Regions from separate parts of the Homo sapiens genome. Here region 2 is linked to region 1. Evidence: fine-mapped expression QTL. A gene starts in region 1. The other region holds a variant in brackets. All regions are shown on one strand. Distances are between the middles of the regions. Region 1 holds the start of ISG15 (ISG15 ubiquitin like modifier). Region 2 holds the start of TTLL10-AS1 (TTLL10 antisense RNA 1).

Region 1 (12,112 bases):
CTTTTTCTCTCCTGACCAACCCCTCTCGCCCCGGGAAAGGCCTCTGGGGAGGGGAACAAGCGGATCCCAGGCCCAGCCCCCGCTCCCCGCCCGGGCAAAGGCCCCCCCTCCCCAGGCCCCTCTCCTTCTCGGCCGGTAGGGAGGGCGCGCGGCAGCCGCAGTCCGTGGGCGAGGTGCACTTGTCTCCGCGAGGAGGGAGGCGGCGGCGGGCGGAGGACGGCGGCGGCGCAGCAACTTTCCCCGGCGCCCGCGAGTTTCCCGGGACCCGGCGACCCCCCCTCCCGGGGCTTGGCGGTCGCCAAGGGAGCCGGAGCGGGGGCTGCGGAGCGACCGGGGCTGGTTCCCACGGCCTGGGGCGGGGGTCCCGGCGGGGCGGCAGGCGTCGCGAGGGGAGGCCGGGGTCCGGGTGGGCGCACCTTGCAGGAGTACGTGTGCTGCACCGGGTCCACGTTGAGGATCTCCTCCACCGTCCCGGTGAGCACCACGTTCGCCTCCTCCTCGCGCCGCTCCAGCGCGCGCTCCGGGCATGTCCCGCCGGCTCCGGGCAGGACGCACGCGGCCACCACAAGGAGCGGCAGCAGCGGCCGCAGCGGGCCCGGGTGGGACCGGCCGGCCATGGCGCAGGCGAGAGGCGGCGGAGGAGCGCGCGGGCCGCGCCGGGGACGGGACTGGACAGGACGGGACGCAGCTCCGGAGGCGGCGGAGCGCGGGCGGGCGGGCGGGGGGGGGCGGGGCCAGGGCGGCGCCCCTCCCCCTCTCTCCTCCCCGCCCCCCTACCCCCTCCCCGCGCCCTCCTCCTCCCCCTCCTCCTTCCTTCCCCCTCCCGCCCCCTCCCTCCTCCCTCCCCCGGCCCGCCCGGAGGCCGGCGACCCGCGCCGCCGCGAACAAAGCCCCGGGACGCAGCGCCCGGCGCGGCCGTGGGGCGGGAAAGGGGCGGCCCGGGAGGGGGCGGGGAGAGGAGAGTGGGGGGCGGGTCTGGATCCCGCAGGCGCCCCTCCCCCGCCGCGGCCCCCCGGAAGTGCGGCTGCACCCGAGTTAATGCCTAATCTGGAGGAGACGTGACGGGACTGCCGAGGGGCTCCGGGCGGCGCGGAGCCGGGCGGCAGGGCTCGAAGGCCGCCGGGAGGGGCCCCAGACCCGGCCCCGATCCCGCTCCGCAGGCCGCGCCCCTCCCCCGCGGGGCCGGACACCGAGGCTCGGCCGGGCCGGACCCCCCGGGAGCTGCGGCGCGGAGGCGGGTCCCGGTGCCGGGGCGGGCGCTGATTGGCCAGCACGGGGCGCGGCCCCGCCCCTCCCGGCCCCGCCCCCCCAGGCCCCGCCGCGGGGAGGTTCGCGCCCCCTTCCGTCCCGCGGCTGCAAGCGCGGGTCCCGCCACGCCCCTTCCCAGCTCTGGGCCGGGCGCCTCTGCAGCTTGGCCTGGCTGGGTGCAGGGGGAAACTGAGGGCTGGAGGACCCAAGTGGGAGCCTGGCCTAGCTGAAGATTGAAAGGAGGGAGCGGAGGCCCCCTTTGTCCCTTCAGAACTGTGTCTAGGCTGGGCGTGGTGACTCACGCCTGTCATCCCAGCACTCTGGGAGGCGGAGGCAGCAAGATCTCTTGACACCGGGTGTTCGAGACTAGCCTGGGCAAAATAGCAAGACCCCATCTCTCAAAAAAATTAAAAATTAGCTGGATGGGCCGGGCGCAGTGGCTCACGCCTGTAATCCCAGCACTTTGGGAGGCTGAGGCAGGTGGATCACGGGAGGTCAGGAGTTCGAGACCAGCCTGGCCAACATGGTGAAACCCCGTCTCTACTAAAAATACAAAAATTGGCCGGTGTGGTGGCAGGCGCCTGTAGTCCTAGCTACTTGGGAGGCTGAGGCAGGAGAATCGCTTGAACCCAGGAGGCGGAGGTTGCAGTGAGCTGAGATGGTGCTGAGAGGTGACAGCGTGCTGGCAGTCCTCACAGCCCTCTCTCGGTCTTCACGCCTCCTCTGCCTGGGCTCCCACTTTGGTGGCACTTGAGGAGCCCTTCAGCCCACCGCTGCACTGTGGGAGCCCCTTTCTGGGCTGGCCAAGGCGGGAGCCGGCTCCCTCAGCTTGCAGGGAGGTGTGGAGGGAGAGGCATGAGCGGGAACCGGGGCTGCGCGCGGCTCTTGCGGGCCAGCTGGAGTTCCGAGTGGGCGTGGGCTTGGTGGGCCCCGCACTTGGAGCAGCCGGCCGGCCCTGCCGGCCCGGAGCAATGAGGGGCTTAGCACCCGGGCCAGCGGCTGCGGAGGGTGTAGTGGGTCCCCCAGCAGTGCCAGCCCACTGGCGCTGCACTCGATTACTCGCCAGGCCTTAGCTGCCTTCCGGCGGGGCAGAGCTGGGGACCTGCAGCCCACCATGCCTGAGCCTCCCACCCCCTCCGTGGGCTCCTGTGCGGCCCAAGCCTCCCCGATGAGCGCTGCCCCCTGCTCCACCGTGCCTAGTCCCATGACCACCCAAGGGCTGAGGAGTGCGGGTGCACAGCGCAGGACTGGCAGGCAGCTCCACTTGCAGCCCCAGTGCGGGATCCACTGGGTGAAGCCAGCTGGGCTCCTGAGTGGTGGAGACGTGGAGAACCTTTATGTCTAGCTCAGGGATTGTAAATACACCAATCAGCACCCTGTGTCTAGCTCAGAGTCTGTGAATGCACCAATAGACAGACACTCTGTATCTAGCTACTCTGGTGGGGCCTTGGAGAACCTTTATGTCTAGCTCAGGGATTGTAAATACACCAATCGGCACTCTGTATCTAGCTCAAGGTTTGTAAATACACCAATCAGCACCCTGTGTCTAGCTCAGGGTTTGTGAATGCGCCAGTGGACACTCTGTATCTAGCTACTCTGGTGAGACCTTGGAGAACATTTATGTCTAGCTCAGGGATTGTAAATACACCAATCGGCACTCTGTATCTAGCTCAAGGTTTGTAAATACACCAATCAGCGCCCTGTGTCTAGCTCAGGGTTTGTGAATGTGCCAGTGGACTCTGTATCTAGCTACTCTGGTGGGGCCTTGGAGAACCTTTGTGTGGATACTCTGTATCTAACTAATCTGGTGGGGACGTGGAGAACCTTTGTGTCTAGCTCAGGGATTGTAAATGCACCAATCAGCGCCCTGTCAAAACAGACCACTAGGCTCTACCCATCAGCAGGATGTGGGTGGGGCCAGATAAGAGAATAAAAGCAGGCTGCCGGTGCTAGCAGTGGCAACCCGGTCAGGTCCCCTTCCACACAGTGGAGGCTTTGTTCTTTCGCTCTTTGCAATAAATCTTGCTACTGCTCACTTTTTGGGTTCACACTGCTTTTATGAGCTGTAACACTCACCGCCAAGGTCTGCAGCTTCACTCCTGAAACCAGCGAGACCACGAGCCCACCGGGAGGAACAAAAAATCCAGACGCGCTGCCTTAAGAGCTGTAACACTCGCCGCCAAGGTCTGCAGCTTCACTCCTGAGCCAGCGAGACCACGAACCCACCAGAAGGAAGAAACTCCGAACATATCCGAACATCAGAAGGAACGAACTGAAGACGCGCCGACTTAAGAGCTGTAACACTCACCGCGAGGGTCCGTGGCTTCATTCTTGAAGTCAGTGAGACCAAGAACCCACCAATTCTGGACACAGTGCAACTGCACTCCAGCCTGGGTGACAGAGCGAGACTGTTTCAAAAAAAAAAAATTAGTCGACGGGCCGGGCGTGGTGGCTCAGGCCTGTAATCCCAGCACTTTGGGAGGCCGAGGTGGGCGGATCACTTGAGGTCAGTAGTTCGAGACCAGCCTGGCCAACATGGTGAAACTCTGTCTCTACTATAAATACAGACAGGGCACGGTAACTCACGCTTGTGATCCCAGCACTTTGGGCAGCCAAGGGGGGAGTGGATCACAAGGTCAGGAGTTCGGGACCAGCCTGACCAACATGGTGAAACTGCCTCTACTAAAAAATTAGCCGGGTGACACGCACCTGTAATCCCAGCCAGTCAGGAGGCTGAGGCAGGAGAATCGCTTGAACTCAGGAGGTGGAGCTTGCAGTGAGCCGAGATCACACCACTGCACTCCAGCCTGGGCGACAGAGCGAAACTCCATCTCAAAGAAACACAAAACAAAACAAATACAAAATTAGCCAGGTGTGGTGACACGCACCTGTAATCCCAGCTCCTCGGGAGGCTGAGGCGGGAGGATCACTTGAGTGTGGGAGGTGGAGGCTGCGGTGAGCGGTGATTGTGCCACTGCACTCCAGCCTAGCTGAGAGTATGACCCTGGGAAAAGTAAGTAATTTTTTTAAAAAAAGGACTGGGTCAGTCAGGCCCAGTGGTTCACACCTGTAATCCCAGCATTTTGGGAGCCCGAGGCAGGCGGACCACTTGAGGCCAGGAGTTCAAGACCAGCCTGGCCAACATGATGAAACCCCATCTCTACTAAAAATACAAAAATTAGGCCGGGTGCGGGGGCTCACACTTGTAACCCTAGCACTTTGGAAGGCTGAAGCGGGCGGATCATGAGGTCAGGAATTCGAGACTAGCCTGGCCAATACAGTGAAACGCTGTCTCTACTAAAAACACAAAAAAAAGTTAGCTGGGTGAGGTGGCGGGCACCATTAATCCCAACTACTTGGGAGGCTGAGGCAGGAGAATTGCTTGAACCCGGGAGGTGGAGGTTGCAGTGAACCGAGATGGCGCCACTGCACTCCAGCCTGAGCGACAGAGTGAGACTCTATCTCAAAAAAAAAAAAAAAAGCACGGGTGCGGTGGCTCACGCCTGTAATCCCAGCACTTTGGGAGGCCGAGATGGGCGGATCACGAGGTCAGGAGATCGAGACCATCCTGGCTAACACGGTGAAACCCCGCCTCTACTGAAAATACAAAAAAAAATTAGCCGGGCGTGGTGGCGGGCGCCTGTAGTCCCAGCTACTCGGGAGGCTGAGGCAGGAGAATGGCGTGAACCCGGGAGGTGGAGCTTGCAGTGAGCAGAGATCGCGCCACTGCACTCCAGCCTGGGCGACAAAGCGAGACTCCGTGTCAAAAAAAATAATAATAAAAAGGACTGGGCCTGTGGTGCCCCTCTCACCCCAGGCTAGCTACAGATCTCTGAGCCAGAAGCCACAAAGGAGGCCCTGCCCTGCCCTGCCCCCGTTGGGGGTTCAGGAAAGGCCCCTGGCTAAGTGCTTCACTCGCCCATTGTGACACAGGGGTGAGGTGGGGACCCGGACACAAGGCTGGAGCCAGGACACCCCCTGCTGGGCACATGCGGGCACACACAGTGGTCCTGGTGCAGCCAGATGGGGGTCTCCCCACCTGGATATGGACCCCCACAGACCAGGGGGGACTCTGTGTCTCCAGCCGGATCCTCCCGAGGGCTCTGAAAGCTGAGGCCCAAGTGCCCAGAGTCCGGACTCTGCATGTCCCTCTGTGCCCCGTCCTCGCTGCATCCCAGCCGACATCCGTGCCCCGTCCTCCCTGCTTCCCGGCCAACAGCTGGCTTCTAGGAGACTCATTTAGCAAATTGGAATAGGAGAGACAGAGAAGGGTGCATGGGTGGGGGAAGGGGTGTAGCTTGTAGCTTGTACTGAATTGGGGGCCCCCCACCTGGGACAAGCTCTGCTTCCTGGACGGTGTCAGCCCCAACTCCAGGTGCCCTCCACTGCTGGCCACGGCCCCTCCTTCACGCACAGCCTTGAGGGGGTGTACTTAGCCACCCAGGCTGTCTTCTGCAGCTGGCCCCAGTGGTGATGTGAGTGCTCAGGACCTGTCTCTACCCCTCCCTAGCCCAGCCCAGGCAGGTGGAGCAGGCTGTGTAGGCTGGGCTAGGGACGGCTGAGGTCCCCAGCCCCCAGTTCCTATGGAGAGCCTGCCTCACAGCCCACCGGGCAGGCCCCAAGGACTCACCCCTTACTGCTCCCAGGGGCCCACTGGGAGCCTCCCCTTTTGATCTGATCAGGCGGGTCCCTGCCTAAGCCGTCTGCTGTCCCAGATGGAGGACAGGCAGGATGGGCTCCAGCAACTGTGTCTCTTTTTCTTTTCCTAGAAGTTAATTTCCCAAAGGGTGGGGAGAGCTGTCTTACTTCAGTTTCGGGGTGGGGGGCTCCCTATTTTGATCCCTCGAAGCTGTAACTGCAAACCCTTATCCCTTCACTTGGCAGCCCAGGCCTGGTCACCAGGATGGACCCTGGGTTCTCCCTCCTGACTTCTCCCGCCCCATCACCAGGGGTCTGAGGCGGACGCTGGAGGAGGGGCAAGCACAGACACAGAGGCGGCCATTTCTCTTTACAACAGCCTTTATTTCCGGCCCTTGATCCTGCTCGGATGCTGGTGGAGGCCCTTAGCTCCGCCCGCCAGGCTCTGTGCCGCCTCCCCGCAGGCGCAGATTCATGAACACGGTGCTCAGGGGCTTGAGGCCGTACTCCCCCAGCGGGAGCTGGTCCTCCAGGGGCTTCCCCTCGAAGGTCAGCCAGAACAGGTCGTCCTGCACACCCTCCAGCCCGCTCACTTGCTGCTTCAGGTGGGCCACGGTCTGCGTCAGCCGTACCTCGTAGGTGCTGCTGCGGCCCTTGTTATTCCTCACCAGGATGCTCAGAGGTTCGTCGCATTTGTCCACCACCAGCAGGACCGTGCTGCCGGGGCCCAGGCCCTGGCTGGCAAGGGGGACCCTGTCCTGCAGCGCCACACCGCTCGGGTGGACAGCCAGACGCTGCTGGAAGGCGTGCACGCCGATCTTCTGGGTGATCTGCGCCTTCAGCTCTGACACCGACATGGAGCTGCTCAGGGACACCTGGAATTCGTTGCCCGCCAGCATCTTCACCGTCAGGTCCCAGCCCTGCAGGCGTCACACAGGTTCAGAGACTGCGGCGCCAGCCCCAGGCCCACCACACACAAGGCACTGGCTGCAGGGCGAGCTCCTGTACCCAGGGACAGTGCTCCCTCCTGTCTGTCCTCTACATCCCGCCGGCAGGGACCCCAGGCACAGAAGGCACTGAGGGCTCGTTACTAGAAGGCCAGCTGCCCACCGCCATCCCGTGGCCTCCCTTTACCTGCTAGGGTGCCCCTCTGTGCCCCACCCTGAGGATCTCAGGGGTGACCTGCTTTCAGGAGCACACTTAGAACCTGGCCAAGCTCTGAGCAGCTCCGCTCTCCCTGCACCCCTGGGAGACCTTGGCTGGGGGAGGGAGACGAAAATTGGCTGGCACAGAGCCCACCTCCCCCCACCTGTGACATCTGCCTTACCATGGCTGTGGGCTGTGGGCTGTGGGCCACGGCACAAGCTCCTGTACTGGCAAAGATGAGTTCGCTGCCTCTCAGCCGCCGGCTTCGGCAGGCAGCACCGGCCCTATTATAAGCCTGAGGCACACACGTCAGGGGGCGTGCCGCCGAGCCTGCGCTGGTGGCCAAATTTGGCTTCAGTTTCGGTTTCCCTTTCCCGAGGCATGCCCCAGAGTGAGCGGAAGAAACAAAACCGAATGACCGAAAGACAGGGAAAAGCAAAAGTGGCGGGGACTCCGGACAGCGGACGGCATCCCCACCCCCACCCAACACCCTGGAAACACCTAAATATCGCGCATTCCAGATCCTTCACAGGATGCACTAAAGCTGTCATCACATGGACTAATGGTTTCATTTTCCATTTACCAACTTGCAAAATTAGTAAACTTGGAAAACATCCCCATGGTTAATTGAGAAACAAGAACTCCAAACTACCCAGAGATAACAACACTCGGTTTAGGGCAGTATTTGCTCAGATTGGTGTTTTTTTGTTGTTGTTTTTGTGTTTTTGAGACAGGGTCTCTCACTCTGTCGCCCAGGCTGGAGTGCAGAGGCACGATCTCATCTCATTGCAACCTCCGCCTGCCAGGCTAAAGCGATCCTCTCACCTCAGCCTCCCACGTAGCTGGGACCACAGGGGTGCACCACCAGGCCCGGCTAATTTTTTGTATTTTTAGTAGAGATGGGGGTCTCGCCATGTCGCCCAGGCTGATCTCGAACTCCTGGGCTCAAGTGATCCACCTGCCTCGGCCTCTGAAACTGCTGGGATTACAGGCGTGAGCCACTGCACCCGGAGCCTCAGATTGTTTTTTAATAAAAGAGACCTATCTTTTATTTTCTACAAAAATGAACTCTGGGACACTATTGAGAAAGTGAAAAGACAATCCATAGAATGGGAAGAAATATTTGCAAATTATCTATCTGATGAGGGCATAGCATCCAGGACATATAGAGAACTCTTACAACTCAATAAAAAATAAAAATAAAAAAAAAAGGCAACTCAATTTTCAAATGGCCAAAAGACTTCAATAGACATTTCTCCAATGACATAGAAACGGCTGTAAAGTGATGTTCAACATCATTATTAATTGGGGAAATGCAAATCAAAACCCCAGTGAGATGCTATTTCCTGCTGGTATGACTGTAATAATAAAAATAAAGGCCAGGCCGGGTGCGGTGGCTCACGCCTGCAATCCCAACACTTTGGGAGGCTGAGGCGGGCGGATCACCTAAGGTCAGGAGTTTGAGACCAGCCTGGCCAACATTTTTAGTAGAAACCCCATCTCTACTAAAAATACAAAAATTAGCTGGGCGTGGTGGTGCACGCCTGTAATCCCAGCTACTTGGGAGGCTGAGGCGGGAGAATCCCTTGAACCCAGGAGGCAGAGATTGTGGTGAGCCAAGATTGCACCAATGCACTCCAGCCTGGGCAGCAGAGCAAGACAGTCTCAAAAAATAATATAAAATAAACATAAAGGCAGTAACAAGCACTGGGGAATACATAGAGGAACTGGAATCCTGGTACATGCATTGCTGTTGAGAATGTAAAACAGTGCGGCCGCCGCGATGCTCAAAACGTTCAACAGAATTATTGGGAACCCAGCAGTTCCACTTCTAGGCATGTGTCCAAAAGAATTGAAAATAGGTGTTCAAATACTTGCATACAAATGTCCATGGCAGCACAGTTTACAATAAACAAGTAGCAGGAACGGAGCACATGTCCATCAGTGATGGATGGACACACAAAGTGTGGAATGTCCACACAACGGAATATTATGCAGCCATGAAAAGGACTGAGGCACTGATTCATGTGAAAGAACCTTGAAAACGTTATGCTAAGTGGAAAGAGCCAGACACGAAGGCCGCAGAGTGTTGGTTCCATTCACCGCAGGGGAAACGACCGGAACTGGTAGAGCCGCAGCACAGGAAGCCGACCCCGTTACCGGGGGCCAGGGAGGGGGAGTGGGGGGTGATTGCTTCAGAGCCACAAGCCCCTTTGGGGGTGACAATGTTTCAGAACTCCACAGAGGTGATGGTTGGACAACGTGGTAAATAACTAAACGCCACTGGATTTCATTCTTTAAAATGGTTAGTTTTATGTTATATGAATTTCACATCAATAAAAAGCAAAGGTGAAAAGGCCTCACCATACTTTCACTGTTTTGTAACCTGCTTCATTCATGCAACAGTGTATCATAAACATCTATCCAGGCCAGGCGGCTCATGCCTGTAATGCCGGCATTTCGGGAGGCTGAGGCGGGAGGATCATTTGAGATCAGGAGTTCGAGACCAGCCTGACCTACATGGCGAAACCCCATCTCTACTAAAAATACAACAACAACAAAAAAGGCCAGGTACAGGGGCTCACGCCTGTAATCCCAGCACTTTGGGAGGCCGAGGCAGGCAGATCACCTGAGGTCAGGAGTTCAAGACCAGCCTGGCCAATATGGTGAAACTCCGTCCCTACTAAAAATGCGAAAAATTAGCTGGGCATGGGCCGGGCGCAGTGGCTCACCTGTAATCCCAGCACTTTGAGAGACCGAGGCGGGTAGATCACCTGAGGTCAGCAGTTTGAGACCAGCCTGGCCAACATGGTGAAACCCCATCTCTACTAAAAATACAAAAATTAGCTGGGCGTGGTGGTGGGCACCTGTAATCCCAGATACTTGGGAGGCTGAGGCAGGAGAATCACTTGAGCCTGGGAGGCGGAGGCTGCAGTGAGCCGAGATCGCTTCACTGCACTCCAGCCTGGGTGAGAGAGCGAGACCCTGTCTCAAAAAAAAAAAAAAAAAACCCAAAAAACAAAAACACGCATCTATCCGTGTTGGTGGACGCATCTGTGCAGGTTGTTTTAACAACTGCATGTTTCCCATGGAAGAATGAGCCTGTTACAGTACAGAGTTAATTTAGTTAAAACCCATCCCACATCACTGAATACTTAGGCTGTTCCCAAATTGTTGTTGTTACACACAGCACATAACAAGAGAAGGATAGCTAAGACTCAGTAATAAACAAATAAATAAAATATTTAAATAAGATTCAAATAAATAAATAAATAATTTTTAAATAAACAAGTGTAAGAGTGAAAAATCAACATATTCTGAATATGAATCCTGGCCCTTCCCCGTCTCCCAGCAAATCTCAGGGGTCACCAAAATTGTCAGCATCTGAAAACCAAAGAGGAGGCGGGGTGGCGGCTCACGCCTGTGATCCCAGCGCTTTGGGAGGACGAGGCGGGCAAATCACTTGAGGTCAGGAGTTCAAGACCAGCCTAGCCAACATGGTGAAACCCCATCTCTACTAAAAATGCAAAAATTAGCTGGGTGTGGTGGCTCACACCTGTAGTCCCAGCTACTCGAGAGGCTGAGGCAGGAGAATTGCTTGAGCCCTGGAGGTGGAGGTTGCAGTGAGCTGAGATCGCGCCACTGCCCTCCAGCCTGGGCGACGAGAACAAGACCCTGTCTCAAACAAACAAACACCACAGTCCCAGGACTTTGGGAGGCCGAGGCAGGCAGATGGCTTGAGCCCAGGAGTTTGAGACCAGCCTGGGCAACATGGTGAAACCCTGTCCCTGCAATACATAAAAAAATTGGCCGGGCGTGGTGGCGCACACCTGTAGTCCTGGCTACTTTGGAGGCTGAGGTGGGAGGATAGCTTGAACCCGGGAGGTGGAGGCTGCAGTGAGCTGTGATCGCACCACTGCACTCCAGCCTGGGTGACAGAGCGAGACCCTGTCTCAAAACCAAACCAAACCCAAGCAAAACAAACAAAAAACCCAGGATTTTCTATTTATTTTTATCATTTTAGATGCCCTGTTAAACATGGTATATGTTTCCTGATTTCTTTTCTTTTTTTTTTTTTTGAGACGGAGTCTTGCTGTCGCCCAGGCTGGAGTGCAGTGGTGCCATCTCAGCTCACTGCAAGCTCCGCCTCCAGGGCTCAAGCAATTCTCCTGCCTCAGCCTCCCGAGCAGCTGGGACTACAGGCGCCCACCACCACGCTTGGCTAATTTTTTGTATTTTTAGTAGAGACGGGGTTTCACCGTGTTACCCAGGATGGTCTCGATCTCCTGACCTCGTGATCCGCCCACCTCATCCTCCCAAAGTGCTGAGATTACAGGCGTGAGCCACCGCGCCCGGCCCGTTTCCTGATTTCTTAATGCTGACGTACGGTGCTAGAATCTTCCTTTCCTTTTGGTTACTTCATCCCATCTCTGCCAGTTGTCTTCCTGCTTCGACAGAACCAACCCCAGGCACAGGCACCGAGGAAGGTGACCAGACCTGCAGTCACTTGCTTTAGTTTCCTGGGGTTGCTGAACAATGTACCACAAACTGGGTGTTAAACTTCACACCACAGAAATGTATTCTCTCGTAGTTCTCCAGGCCAAAAGCCCAAAATTCATGTGGACTAAATGACCAAGATTGTCAGATGGTGGCTCACATCTGTAATTTCAGCACTTTGGAAGCAAAGCCTAGAGGATCGCTTGAGCCTGGGAGTTTGAGACCAGCCTGGGCAACATAGTGAGACCCCACCTCTAAAAAAAAAAATAGCCGGGCGTGGTGGTGGGCGCCTGCAGTCCCAGCTACTCGGGAGGCTGAGGCACGAGAATGGCTTGAACCCGGGAGGCGGAGGATGCAGTGAGCCGAGATTGCGACACTGCACTCCAGCCTGGGCGACAGAGCAAGACCGTGTCTCAAAAATAAAAATGAAACAAAACGCCGGGCGCGGTGGCTCACACCTGTAATCCCAGCACTTTGGGAGGCCAAGGCGGGTGAATCGCCTGAGGTCAGGAGTTCAAGACCAGCCTGGCCAACACAGTGAAACCCCGTCTCTACTAAAAAGGCAAAATGAGTACGGCGTGGT
Region 2 (12,112 bases), 170 kb before region 1:
TCCACATTGGCCAGGCTGGTCTCAAACTCCTGACCTCAGGTGATCCACCTTCCTCAGCCTCCCAAAGTGCAATGGATTTTTATTTTTTTGTTTTTTGAGATGGAGTCTTGCTCTGTTGCCCAGGCTAGAGTGCAGTGGCACGATCTTGGCTCACAGCTACCTCCACCTCCCGGGTTCAAGCAATTCTTCTTTCTCAGCCTCCCAAGTAGCTGGGACTACAAGCACCCACCACCACGCCTGGCTAATTTTCATATTTTTAGTAGAGATGGGGTTTCACCATATTGGTCAGGCTGGTCTTGAACTCCTGACCTCAGGTGATCTAACAACCATGGCCTCCCAAAGTGCTGGGATTACAGGCGTGAGTCACCGCACCTGGCACAATGGATTTTTAGATATGATACTAAAAGCATGAGTAACCAAAGGAAAAAAATGGATAAACTGGATTTCATCAAAACTAAAAGCTTTTGTGGTCAAAGGACATTATCAAGAAAGTGAAAAGACAGCCACAATATTCCAGAAAAATATTGGCAAATCATATGTCTGATAAAGGCCTAGTGTTTAGAATATGTAAAGAACTTTTGGCCGGGCGCGGTGGCTCACACCTATAATCCCAGCACTTTGGGAGGCCGAGGCGGGCAGATCACGAGGTCAGGAGATCGAGACCATCCTGGCTAACACGGTGAAACCCTGTCTCTACTAAAAATACAAAGAATTAGCCGGGCGTGGTGGCGGGCGCCTGTAGTCCCAGCTACTCGGGAGGCTGAGGCAGGAGAATGGCGTGAACCCGGGAGGCGGAGCTTGCAGTGAGCCGAGAATCACATCACTGCACTCCAGCCTGGACGACAGAGCGAGCCTCTGTCTCAAAAAAAAAAAAACAAAAAACAAACAAAAAAAACTTTCACAACTGGATGGTAAAGAACAGCCACAGCGTTTGAATAGACATTTCTCTAAAGAATATACATAGCTGGCCAGTGAACACATGAAGTTATTTGTCATTAGCAAAATGGAAATCAAACCCACAATGAGATATCCCTGCACACCGACCAGATGGTGATTCTTTAATAAAGAAAGGAAAATAACAAGTGTTGGCGAGATCTGGAGAAACTGGAAAAGTGATTCCTGGTTCCTCAGAAAGTTAAGTGTGTCACCCTGTGACCCACGACTCCATTCCTGGGTATTTTCCCAGGAGCACTGAAAATATATATTCATACAAACATTTTTGTGTGAATATTTATAGCAACATTATTCATAACAGCTCAATAATAAAACTGTGTCCACCAGCTGATGGCAAAATATGGTCCATCCATATGACGGAACGTTGTATGAAAGGGATACATGGCTGGGTGCAGTGGCTCACGCCTGTAATCCCAGCACTTTGGGAGGCTGAGGCGGGCGGGTCACCTGAGGTCAGGAGTTTGAGACCAGCCTGGCCAACACGGCAAAACCCCATCTCTACTAAAAATACAAAAATTAGCCGCGCGTGGTGGCGGGCACTTGTAGTTGCAGCTACTTGGGAGGCTGAGGCAGGAGAATTGCTTGAACCCAGGAGGTGGAGGTTGCAGTGAGCTGAGATTGTGCCACTGTACTCCAGCCTGGGCAACAGAGTGAGACTCTGTCTCAAAAAAAAAAAAAAGAAAAGAAAAGGATACGTGAACTACGTGGATGAACCCTGAAAACACCACGGTAAGAGAAAGGAGACAGGAGAGAGAGAGAAGGTCCATCAGCGGTGACCAGGAATGGCCGGCAATGTAGCTGTGATGGCTCGTTAGTAGTGTTTCTTTTTTGAGGTGATGAAATGTTCTGGAATTGGTGGTGATAATTGCACAACTTTTGAAATACTAAAAGCCACTGAACTGCACACTTTAAGATCGTGAATTTTATGTTCTGTGAATTATCGCAATTAAGAGAGAGTTTGGGAGATGTGAGGAAAGTAACTGGAGGCTCCTCTGAGCGCTGCCGTCCCAGCCACAGTGACACACGCCTGTGGGTGAGGAAGGACCATCCCTGGCTGCTGCTTCCGGGGCCTGGCCGGGGTGACCAAGACAGATAAAAGTCCTTCGGCCAAGCCCCGTTTTTATCCCAGTTTCACACCGCGCTGCTCAAGGGCCTTTGCTGCTAGGGCTGTTTGAAGTACCCCACAGGTACCCCCACAGAAAGGAACCCTGCAAAATTAGGACACTCCACCGCACATGGCCCTTAGCTAGGGAGAGTCCGGGCCTGCACGGGCAGCTGCTGCTGCTCCAGGACACCTGGCCCGGGGGCTGCTGTTGGCCCTGCCTGCCAAGTGGAGGATCTGAAAGGAACAAAGACTCTTCACATGGTGGCTGTCACTGAAGCCGAGCTGTCCCCTGACCCTACGGCGAGGCTGCCCGCGGGACTCGTGCCGACAGACCCCCGACTGGGCTTTCCGTCCGGGCCTTTGCTGGCTGCTGGGGACAGGCACTGCCAGCTAAGTGAGCAGAGACGCTGGAAGGGTTTGGTTCCACACGGTCAGGTCACACTTCAGCGCAGCCGCCCACGCACGCCACGGACATCTGTGTGCCTGGTGCCCAGCCTGACCACACACCCCCGCCCCGAGGGATCTCACTCCCAGACTGGAGGGCACAGTGGACGCACCTTGAGGGTGGTGAAGACCCAGTCCTTGGCGAGGCCCCGGGCCTTCCAGAACGTGTCACTGATGTAGCGGTTGAGGTGTTCCATGCTCCACACCGTGTGCTCCTTCAGCAGCATGTACAGAGGGCTCTTCTTCTGCATGAACTGGGGGCACACGGTGCCTGGAGACTGGCTCCCAGACTGTCCGGAGGGCCTGTCCTCACGGGGGTCCCCAAGAGAACATCCCCCTAACCTAGAAGGCTTCTGCATGAACTGGGGGCACACGGTGCCTGGAGACTGGCTCCCAGACTGTCCGGAGGGCCTGTCCTCACGGGGGTCCCCAAGAGAACATCCCCCTAACCTAGAAGGCTTCTGCATGAACTGGGGGCACACGGTGCCTGGAGACTGGCTCCCAGACTGTCCGGAGGGCCTGTCCTCACGGGGGTCCCCAAGAGAACATCCCCCTAACCTAGAAGGCCTGTTCTCTGGGGGTCCCTGAGACAGCCGCCCCTAACCTTGCTCCCCCGGCCCCACCCTGACCTGCCTGCAAAGACCCTCCCACAAAAACCTTCATCCGCTGAGACCCCCCTTCAGCCGTGAGGACCCCACAGATCTTCTCAGAAGGTCCCTACCCTGGACTCTCCCATGAAGACCCGTCCCCAGAAATCTCTGCCCACAGGGCCCCTCCTCTGACAGCCTCAGAATCCCCTCGGTTCCGACGCCCACCCGCACCCCATCCTCAGAAAACTCAGCTGCGGCTTGGGAGCCAGGCTGCACGCTGAGGGCTACAGGGCTCTGAGCCCTTTCACCAGCTAACGGGGTCCCTGCCACGCCCTTCTTCTGACGTGGCCAAAAGCGGGAGGTGAGAGGCAGTGCTCACTGCCAGCGGGGGCAGCCCAGGCTACTTCCAGGCCTGAGACACCTCCCGGCCTGGGCCACCTCCTTCTGTAGCTGCACCCCCTCTGCACCCCCTAGCAGTGAGAACCTCCTTCTAATCTCATCCCAAGGCTGCAGGGAGGGCCCTCACCCATGGCAGACTCACCTGGTTGGTCAAGTGGCCGCCGAGGTCGCTGGAATGGGGGTCGTAAAGGCTAAGGGTGAGGCGAGCATAGCCGTGGCCAAAGAAGATCATGTAGGGTGTGGTGCAGGCAATGAGCAGGTAGGAGCGCACGTCAAACTTTCTCCCGTCCACCAGCAGCGGGTTCTGGATGTACCTGGGGGCACCATGTCGGGGCTGCTGGGCTGAGCCACGGGGCCAGCCTGGCCTGCATCCCCTCACACCCCACCCCGGGCCTGTTCCATTTCCTCAGCGCCCCGCCTCTGTCCCAGGTGTGACCTCCAGGGAAAGGGGGCATTTCTGGGCCTGAATATGTCAGGGGAATTGGGAGGAAAGGCCTGGCACCCTGATGGGTGCTCCAGGGCATAACCGCAGTAGGAGCCTGGAGGGCTGCCTGGAGGAGGAGGGCATGAAGGTGGCTTTGGAGAGGAAGGGAAGGAGCGCGCCAGGCGGGCGCTAGGCAGAGGGAGCACAGCAGGCAGAGGGGGTGCGCCAGGCGGAGAGCTCGCCAGGTGGAGGGACGCGAGGGAGGAGCCGATGGAAGCTGGGGACGGCAGACGGCAGCTGTGGTCAGAGTGAGGCTCTACGAGGGCCGGGGGTGAGGTCGACAGGTCTAAACCTTCAGCCTCGTGCAGCCACGGGGCTTTCTGGAGGAAGCCTTCCCACTCAGGGAAGGAGTGGTCAGCTTGGCCATAGGCCTGAAGGCTGCAGCTGGCTGGCTGGGCCGGGGAGTAGGGGGGCTGGCAGCCGGGAGGCCACCCAGGCCAGGCCACCTGCAGGACAGAGGGGGCCCCAGCTGAAGGACAAACTGACTAACCCCTCAACCCTGGATCCTGTGTCTGTGACCCCGGCCTGGTGTGACCCCTCCCCTCTGCTGGCTACACGGGGGCCCGGCTGTGGTCTGCACAGGGGCTGGTGGTGCGGCTGCTTTCCACGACCAAGGGCTCCTCGGCGGCCCTGCTGACTGCACCAGTGGGGCCCGGGTCAGCCAGCCCAGACCCTCACCCCTCCGGGCACCCGCCGCCGCACCTCTGCACCACCCGCGCCTGAGGCCCCCGGAACGGCGTCTTGTGGTGGATGGGGTCGTCCTCCATGCTCCGGGTCTTGGCCTGCAGGGCGGCAACTTCCTCCTGGTTCCGGAGCAGGAAGATGCCTTTGCCCTGGTTGGAGGCTGTGGGCTTGCAGATCCATATCTGGGTTTCTGCAGAGAGCGCGGCCTGAGCCCCTGGCCTCGCCCCCAACCCAGCCACGCCCCTCCTAGGGCCCGACCAGGACCCTCCCCTCCAGGCTGCGACCCTCGGCCCGGCCATTCCAACCTTGGCCCTGCGCTAACCACACGCCTGGCCCCAGCTCCTGCCCGTGCCTCGACCACGCTCACCCGGACCAAGCTCCAGCCCTGGCCCCAGTGCCCTCATACCCCAACCTCCACGAAGGCCAGACCCTCCCCTTTCCAACTCCTCAGTCCCCACCCAGACCAGGCCCAGCCCTGGCCCCTTCCTGACCACCTCGTCTCGTCCCAGCCCCACGCAGCCCCTCCAGACCCAGCCCTGCCCTCATCAGCCCCCGCCTTGGTCCAGCCCTCACCCTGTCTCCCCAGGGCCAGCCTGGTGTCCGGCCAGCAGCGTCTCACCATCAAACAAGGTGAAAAAGGCCTCTCTCTCGTGTTTGAGGTCCAGGCGGTAGGTCTCTGGGAAAAACTCTTCCATTCTCAGGACCCTGCAGGGCAGGGAGGCAGGAGGATGAGCTGCTGTCCCTTCGCCCCTGGCTGGGTGGGCGGTTTGAGGCCCAGCCTGTGGCCCGGCGGGAGGGAGTGTGGGCAGTGGCACCTGGCGCCCGCGGCCGTTCTCCTTGTGGGGACTTTGCGTTTCCTGCCCCTTTGCAGCACCCCCCCAACGGGCTGTGCTGCTGGCTGCATCCTTCTGGCCGCTGACCCCCACCCGGGCCCCTCCCGCTGGCTGCTTTTTCCCTCATGGTTGCTCTCCCGGCTGGCACCGTCTCAGCCATTTGTGAGCCACCACCTCATGGCAGTGTCCTCACGGCTGGGATGGGCGGAGAGCGTGGCCTGAGCCCCTGGCCCTGCCCCAGCTCTGTGTGCACTGGGGGGTCAGCGTGGATCTCGGCCTGGCCTGGCTGAACCTCTGACTCTAGCTCGTGGTTTTCCTTTGTGTGGGACCCCCGCCCCGCTTTCTCCTTTTCAGACGACACCAGGTTTAGGTCTGAACTTCGGTCTGAAGGGCCCCTCACAGCTGGGCTGAGTCTACCTCTGTGGCCTGAGGTATCCTGGGCTTGTCCACGGGAGGTCCTCCAGGGCGGGCGCTGCTGCGTCCTTTTCCAGCCTGCAGCCCAGGGGACAGAGGGCCTGGACTGAGGGGCCAGCTCATGGTGCTTGGAGCGGGTGGGGACTGGGGGATGGGGCATGGGTGGTGAGTGGGCGGACTGTGAGTTGTGGTGGAAGGAGGTGGCTGGGTGGACGGCGGTGCCTGGGGGAAACAGCTGTGTTGCTCTAGGCTGGAAGTGGACGCTGGACATGGTGTAAAGCTGGTGTCACAGGCAACCAGGGGCGGGGGGTGCAGATGGAGGCAGCTGCGGTTGGCTGGGCGGGTGCTTGGTGCAAAAATGTCTGGGCCAAATGAAGTGAGGAGGGATAGGT[G/A]GGTCCATAGAAGGGCAGTGGGCAGGGCTGGGAGCAGGAGGACGAAGTCGCTAGGATGGATGGCCCAGACTTGGGTGAGCGATGGACGGCCTCACTCAGGGCACCCACAGGTGACGGTGGGCACGGTGTGGGATTGTGGATGGATTGGATGGATGTTTGGGGTGAAGGCAGATTGACAGGTGGGTTGTACCTGGGTGGGTCTGTGAGATGGACAGGTGGGTGGGTGTCAGGCCCAGTGGGTTGGGGACGTGTGGGATCTTCCCCGTTCAGCCACGAGGAAGAGGGTGGGTTTATGGGACAGGGGTTTGGCCCTTTAAAGGACAGGTGGAAGGTGGAGGCAGGTGCTGACGGGTGGGGGCTGGGGCCAGCCTGGGAGCCCAGGTGGCCAGGGGCAGGGGCAAGGGCAGGGGCAGGGGCTGGAGCCAGCCTGGGAGCCTGGGTGGCCAGGGGCAGGGGCAAGGGCAGGGGCGGGCGCAGGGGCAGGGGTGGGGCGGGTGCAGGGGCAGGGGCAGGGGCAGGCGTAGGGGCGGGCGCAGGGACGGGGGCAGGGGCAGGGGCAGACTCACCTGGCCTGGACCCCCCCCGGCACCTTGCTGGCCTTGCTCATGGCCCGTGCCCGTCCCCGAAGGGTGCTGAGCAGCCCGATCTTGGTGGTGAGGAGCTTGTTGTTGGGAAGCTGGTACAGCAGCTGCTCTCCTGGAGGTCAGAGGCCAGGGCTCGTGTGGAGGGAGCGCAGGACCTCGGTCCCCACCCCTCCAACCTGCCCTGTGCTCCGGCCCAGGAGGCCCCTGCAGGCTGCCCGCCTCTGGTGCCGGCTCCCGCTACCTTCCCGGAAGCTGCCGTAGCTGTCTCGGCTCTTGACCTCACACCACTTCAGCGTGTAGTCGTCCCGGCGGCTGTCATGGATGCGCTGCCAGCCCTTGCTTTTGCAGTAGGAGCTGATGCTGCGAGGGGTGGGGGCGGGGGTGACCTGGGGGCCGAGGCAAGGGGTTGGGGATGGCGGGCGGCCAGCGGAGGCCGGGCTGGGCCCCGGGAGCAGGCGGTGGGTATTCAGTGGGACCACGGGCGCCCAGGGCCGCTACTCACATTGTGGCCCCGTTGCTGCCTCCAATGTAGAAGAAGGGCCCCGGCCGGGTGCTGTGGGGCGATGGCTTCCCACCCCCCAGCAGGAGCCCCTCCAGGAGGGCAGCTGAGGGCCCGGCGGCGTTAGTGTCATCCGAGTCTGCAGGCCGGTGGCTGTTCAGGAGCCCAGGGGGTCCGGGTGTGGCAGAGGCTCTTTCTGCCCCCTCCAGGTCCGGCCCACAGTGTCCATCTGCGTCGTGGTCTGGCTGGCTTGGCTGACACCGGAGTCCCTCCTCCTGGCTGCTCCCCATTGGCCTCTCGTGGGCCGGGCCTGTGAACGGGGTGGGGTCCCACCGGGGTGGCTACGGGAGCTGCCCACTCAGCCCGGACATGGCTCAGCCAGTTTGCTCCCAGCCCATTTCTCCAATACCCTGGACAATCCCCCTGGCCCGTCTGGGGCTCAAGTTCAGCCCGAGCTCTGGCCCCACCAGGCGGCCTGGGGACTGCTTACATCTGGGGAGGGGCCGTGACCACCCTCCAGGGCCAGGCTTCCTGCCGGCAGGTTCCAGGTGGGGGTGGGGAGCTTGGAGCAGGGGGCAGGGAGGTCGCCCCTCCGACCCTCCTCACCAACAGGGCAGTGGCCTGGTGCAGGGCAGGGGCCGGGCTGTGAGGCCGGTGCTGGGTGCAGACGTGACGCAGGGATGGTCCCTGGAGGGCAGGGGTCACAATGTCCATGATGATGTCATGGGTGACCCAAGGGGCCATTGTCAGGCCGGGAGACGAGGGGCTGCCCTTCCAGGGGTGGTGCCAGCCAGGCGGAACCCTGGGCCGCGGAGCGCGACAGCTCCCCTCTGTGCCTGCAGAGCCCGGCGCCCACAGCTGGCCCCTCTCTCGGAGCAGCGGGGCATGGCCATGTGTGGATCCTGCCCCTGCCCCATGAGGCCGACTGACTTCCTTGGGTATGGGGCACCCGTCCCAGGGAGGCCTTGGCCTTGGAGAGGTAGGAGGCCACCCAGGGCTGCTCTATTCACCTGAGACTCGAGCCCGAGGCCTCTGCTGGATCCTTGGCCTCTTGCCCCTCTTGAAGCCGGCTCGGGTCCGAGTGGGTGGTCCCCGGCGGTGGATGAACCGGGTGCAGCTGTGGTCCATTGGCCGGGGGGTGCCCGGGCGAGGGCCCTGAAGGGAAGATGCCGCTCTGACCCTCCTGTGGGACCTCCGCGCGGCCCGAGGCCCCAGTGCTTGGATGGAGCAGGCAGTCAGGCCCACCCTGCCCAGGAAAGGGCGCCTCCCAGGGCCGTGGGCTTGAGCCTCTGCGTGCGGCTGGCTCCCGTCTCTGTGGCAGCTGTGGGGCCTGGCGCCGTGTGGGGGCGAGGCTGTCTCTGCACCCTGTCTCTGCCGGGCATGTCCTCCCTGGCCGGAGCGGCTCTTCAGGTGTGGCTGAGCTCGGCCTGGGTGCCGGCTGGAAGGAGGGGCAGCGTCAGGCCTGCTGGGTGGGGCGCCTGCCTGAAGAATGGAGGGTGGGAGGGCTCCTTGGCCTGAGCAGGGGTCTTCTCTGTCTCCGCTGCTGACCCCGGAGCCCAGCTGTGGGCTGTGTGCAGCCGCCTGGTACCTGCCATCAGGGTTCCTCTGCGGCCGCCCCTGGGTGCCAGGCCCGACCCCCAGGACACTGTCTCCAGCAACACCTTCCCATGTTGCAACTTAGGAATTTTCAGCCAGTTCCTCGACAGATCTTTCTACCTCTGTCTCCAGCAAACAAACCCATCTTGGGGCTGCTTGGGAGGTGAGAACTTTTTTTTTTTTTTTGAGACGGAGCTTCATTCTTGTGGCCCAGGCTGGAGTGCAATGGGGCGATCTAGGCTCACTGCAACCTCTGCCTCCCAGGTTCAAGCGATTCTCCTGCCTCAGCCTCCCAGGTAGCTGGGACTACAGGCACCCACCACCATGCCCAGCTAACTTTTTGTATTTTTAGTAGAGATGGGTTTTCTCCATGTTGGTCAGGCTGGTCTCAAACTCCCGACCTCAGGTGATCCGCCTGCCTCGGCCTCTGAAAGTGCTGGGATAACAGGTGTGAGCCACTGTGCCCGGCTTAGGTGAGGGCTTTCAAGGGTTTGAAGGAACTCGCCCAGGAGACAGGGGAGCACACGGCAGTGTTGGGCAGAGGCTGTGGGGGCTCTGAGGCTGGAGAAGGCTGGGGTAGGCCTGAGGCTCCAGGCTGGGCACAGAGCTCGGCACCAATCTCACCCGCAGGAAGCCTTTGTGTCTGCCCCTCCCTGCCCCGCCTGAGTGACAGGAGGGAAGGAGACAACGAGGAAGCCCACGGGCAGGGGAAGGTGGGGAAACTGAGGCAGCCGTCTGCACGATGACCCAGTCGGGTGGGGCCACTGGGACCCGTCCTCAGGGAGGAGCGGAACACAGGCTGGGCCCCCCACCTGTGTCTGGGAGAGCCTCACGCCCTCTTCCTAGGGTGGGCTGGGCAAGAATGGAAGAAGTCAGGAGCCCTGAGACCCCTCCCCACCCAGAACAGGAGGACTTTTGGAAGAGGCTGGACCCTGCGCAGGCACGGAGCAGGTGTGTGCGTGCAAGACTCTGCATTAAATGGGAGACCTCAGCTCCTTCTCATGGGCCCTCAGCACCCAGGATTCCTGCTGGGGAAGGGGATCCTCTAAAGTACTGACTCTCAGCCAAAGGGGCTGCCCAGGCCCAACAGGCATCATCAGAGGGACTCCCAAGTGTGAAGAAGAGTGACACAAGGACAGCCGGGCGCGGAGGCTCACGCCTGTAATCCCAGCACTGTGGGAGGCTGAGGCGGGCAGATCATGAGGTCAGGAGATTGAGACCATCCTGGCTAATATGATGAAACCTTGTCTCTACTAAAAATGCAAAAAATTAGCCGGGCATGGTGTTGGGCGCCTGTAGTCCCAGCTCCTTGAGGGGCTGAGGCAGGAGAATAGCTTGAACCTGGGAGGTGGAGCTTGCAGTGAGCTGAGATCGTGCCACTGCACTCCAGCCTGGGCGACAGAGCGAGACTCCGTCTCAAAAAAAAAAAGAATGACACACAGACACATTTACACACACACACGCACAGACACACAGCTACACACAGACACACACAGACATGTCGACACTTGCACAGATGCACAGACACACCTACACACACAGACACATGGATGCACAGACACACCTACAGACATGCACACACACACCTATAAACATGCACAGACACACCTACAGACACCTACACACAGACACGTCTACACACACACGTACACACAGACACACACACAGACACCCACACACACACACAGACACCCACACACACAGACGCTGACACACACAGACACGCAGACATGTAGACACACAGACACACAGACGCACACAGAGGAAGAGAAAAGGGGAGAAACAGGGAAACAAACCAGCCTGGAAAAGGCTGGGGTGATGGAGACAGGACCCCTCAGAGAGCCGCGTGCTTTTAAAGCAAAGGCACAGAGAATACAAAAGAGCCGGTGGGAATTAAAAATGCAACACCGGGGTTGGGATTTAAGTCAAGGAAACTGCCCAGAAGGGAACCCTGGGGATGGGACTGTGGGTGTAAATCCGAGGTGCCGCACAGCAGGGTCACCGTGGAGCCCCAGGCGAGAGGGGAGGCCCGGGGAGATACAGGCACAGAGCCGGAGGAAGGAGGTGTGGTCCTGGCCAGCCCTGGGTGCCCACCGAGGCCACTAGCAGCCCTCCAGCCTTCCTGGGGACACACAGGGCTGGAACCGGCCCAGGAGGCTCCCAGCCGGGAATTCCAGGAATTCCATACCTGGCCTACCAGGTGTGGAGGTGGGAAAAGGTGTGGAGGTGGGAAAAGGTGAGGAGACATCCGTCCCTCCGGGAAGCCTGGAAGACTCTCACAGGAGTGAGCTGTCAGGGAAAAGATGCAGCAGCTGTGAGCTTGCAGCTGACCTGATGACTGTGTGCCCCAGCCTCTCCAGCTGTACAGCGTCAGCCTCTCTCCAGCTGCACAGCGTCAGCCTCTCTCCACCTGCACAGTGTCAGCCTCTCTCCACCTGCACAGCGGCTGGGAGCAGCAGCCTCTCCACCTGCACAGCGTCAGCCTCTCTCCACCTGCACAGCGTCAGCCTCTCTCCACCTGCACAGCGGCTGGGAGCAGCAGCCTCTCCACCGGCACAGCGGCAGCCTCTCTCCACCTGCACAGCGTCAGCCTCTCTCCACCTGCACAGCGTCAGCCTCTCTCCACCTGCACAGCGGCTGGGAGCAGCAGTCTCTCCACCTGCACAGCGGCAGCCTCTCTCCACCTGCACAGCGTCAGCCTCTCCACCTGCACAGCGTCAGCCTCTCTCCACCTGCACAGTGGCTGGGAGCAGCAGCCTCTCCACCTGCACAGCGTCAGCCTCTTTCCACCTGCACAGCGTCAGCCTCTCTCCACCTGCACAGCGGCTGGGAGCAGCAGCCTCTCCACCGGCACAGCGGCAGCCTCTCTCCACCTGCACGGCAGCAGCCTCTCCACCGGCACAGCGGCAGCCTCTCTCCACCTGCACGGTGGCAGCCTCTCTCCACCTGCACAGCGGCTGGGAGCAGCAGCCTCTCCACCTGCACAACAGCAGCCTCTCTCCACCTGCACAGCAGCTGGGAGCAGCAGCCTCGCAGGGTTGCTGCAAAGATGGAGTTTCCACATGTAATGTCAGGACAGCACCCGCCACACACTGCGCAGTCTGCAGGGCTGTGGTGATGGTGACTGTGGGGGT

What was found. PIP is the estimated chance that this variant, and not a neighbour inherited with it, causes the effect.
Region 2: its variant is fine-mapped to the expression of ISG15 in fibroblasts (GTEx, PIP above 0.99).

What each region holds. Positions count from the first base shown.
Region 1 is chr1:1,008,678-1,020,789 of GRCh38, reverse strand. It overlaps ISG15 (ISG15 ubiquitin like modifier), which reads right to left and starts at 7,293. Exons shown (of 2, transcript NM_005101.4): 1 at 7,214-7,293; 2 at 6,250-6,806. The coding sequence starts at 7,216. The coding sequence ends at 6,312. AGRN (agrin) reads right to left here and starts at 670. Exons shown (of 36, transcript NM_198576.4): 1 at 417-670. The coding sequence starts at 617. RefSeq lists silencers at 907-1,356, 5,034-5,254 and enhancers at 5,681-5,730, 6,181-6,240, 5,540-6,431, 6,401-6,810, 6,432-7,323 and 1 more.
Region 2 is chr1:1,175,614-1,187,725 of GRCh38, reverse strand. It overlaps TTLL10 (tubulin tyrosine ligase like 10), which reads right to left. Exons shown (of 16, transcript NM_001130045.2): 4 at 8,393-8,537; 5 at 7,989-8,069; 6 at 7,386-7,692; 7 at 7,125-7,243; 8 at 6,866-6,995; 9 at 5,911-5,985; 10 at 5,280-5,365; 11 at 4,679-4,850; 12 at 3,635-3,806; 13 at 2,617-2,757. The coding sequence starts at 8,510. It overlaps TTLL10-AS1 (TTLL10 antisense RNA 1), which reads left to right and starts at 8,171. Exons shown (of 2, transcript NR_173246.1): 1 at 8,171-8,361; 2 at 11,330-12,112. RefSeq lists enhancers at 8,056-8,555, 11,611-12,112. The variant G/A (reference allele first, on the strand shown) is at 6,300.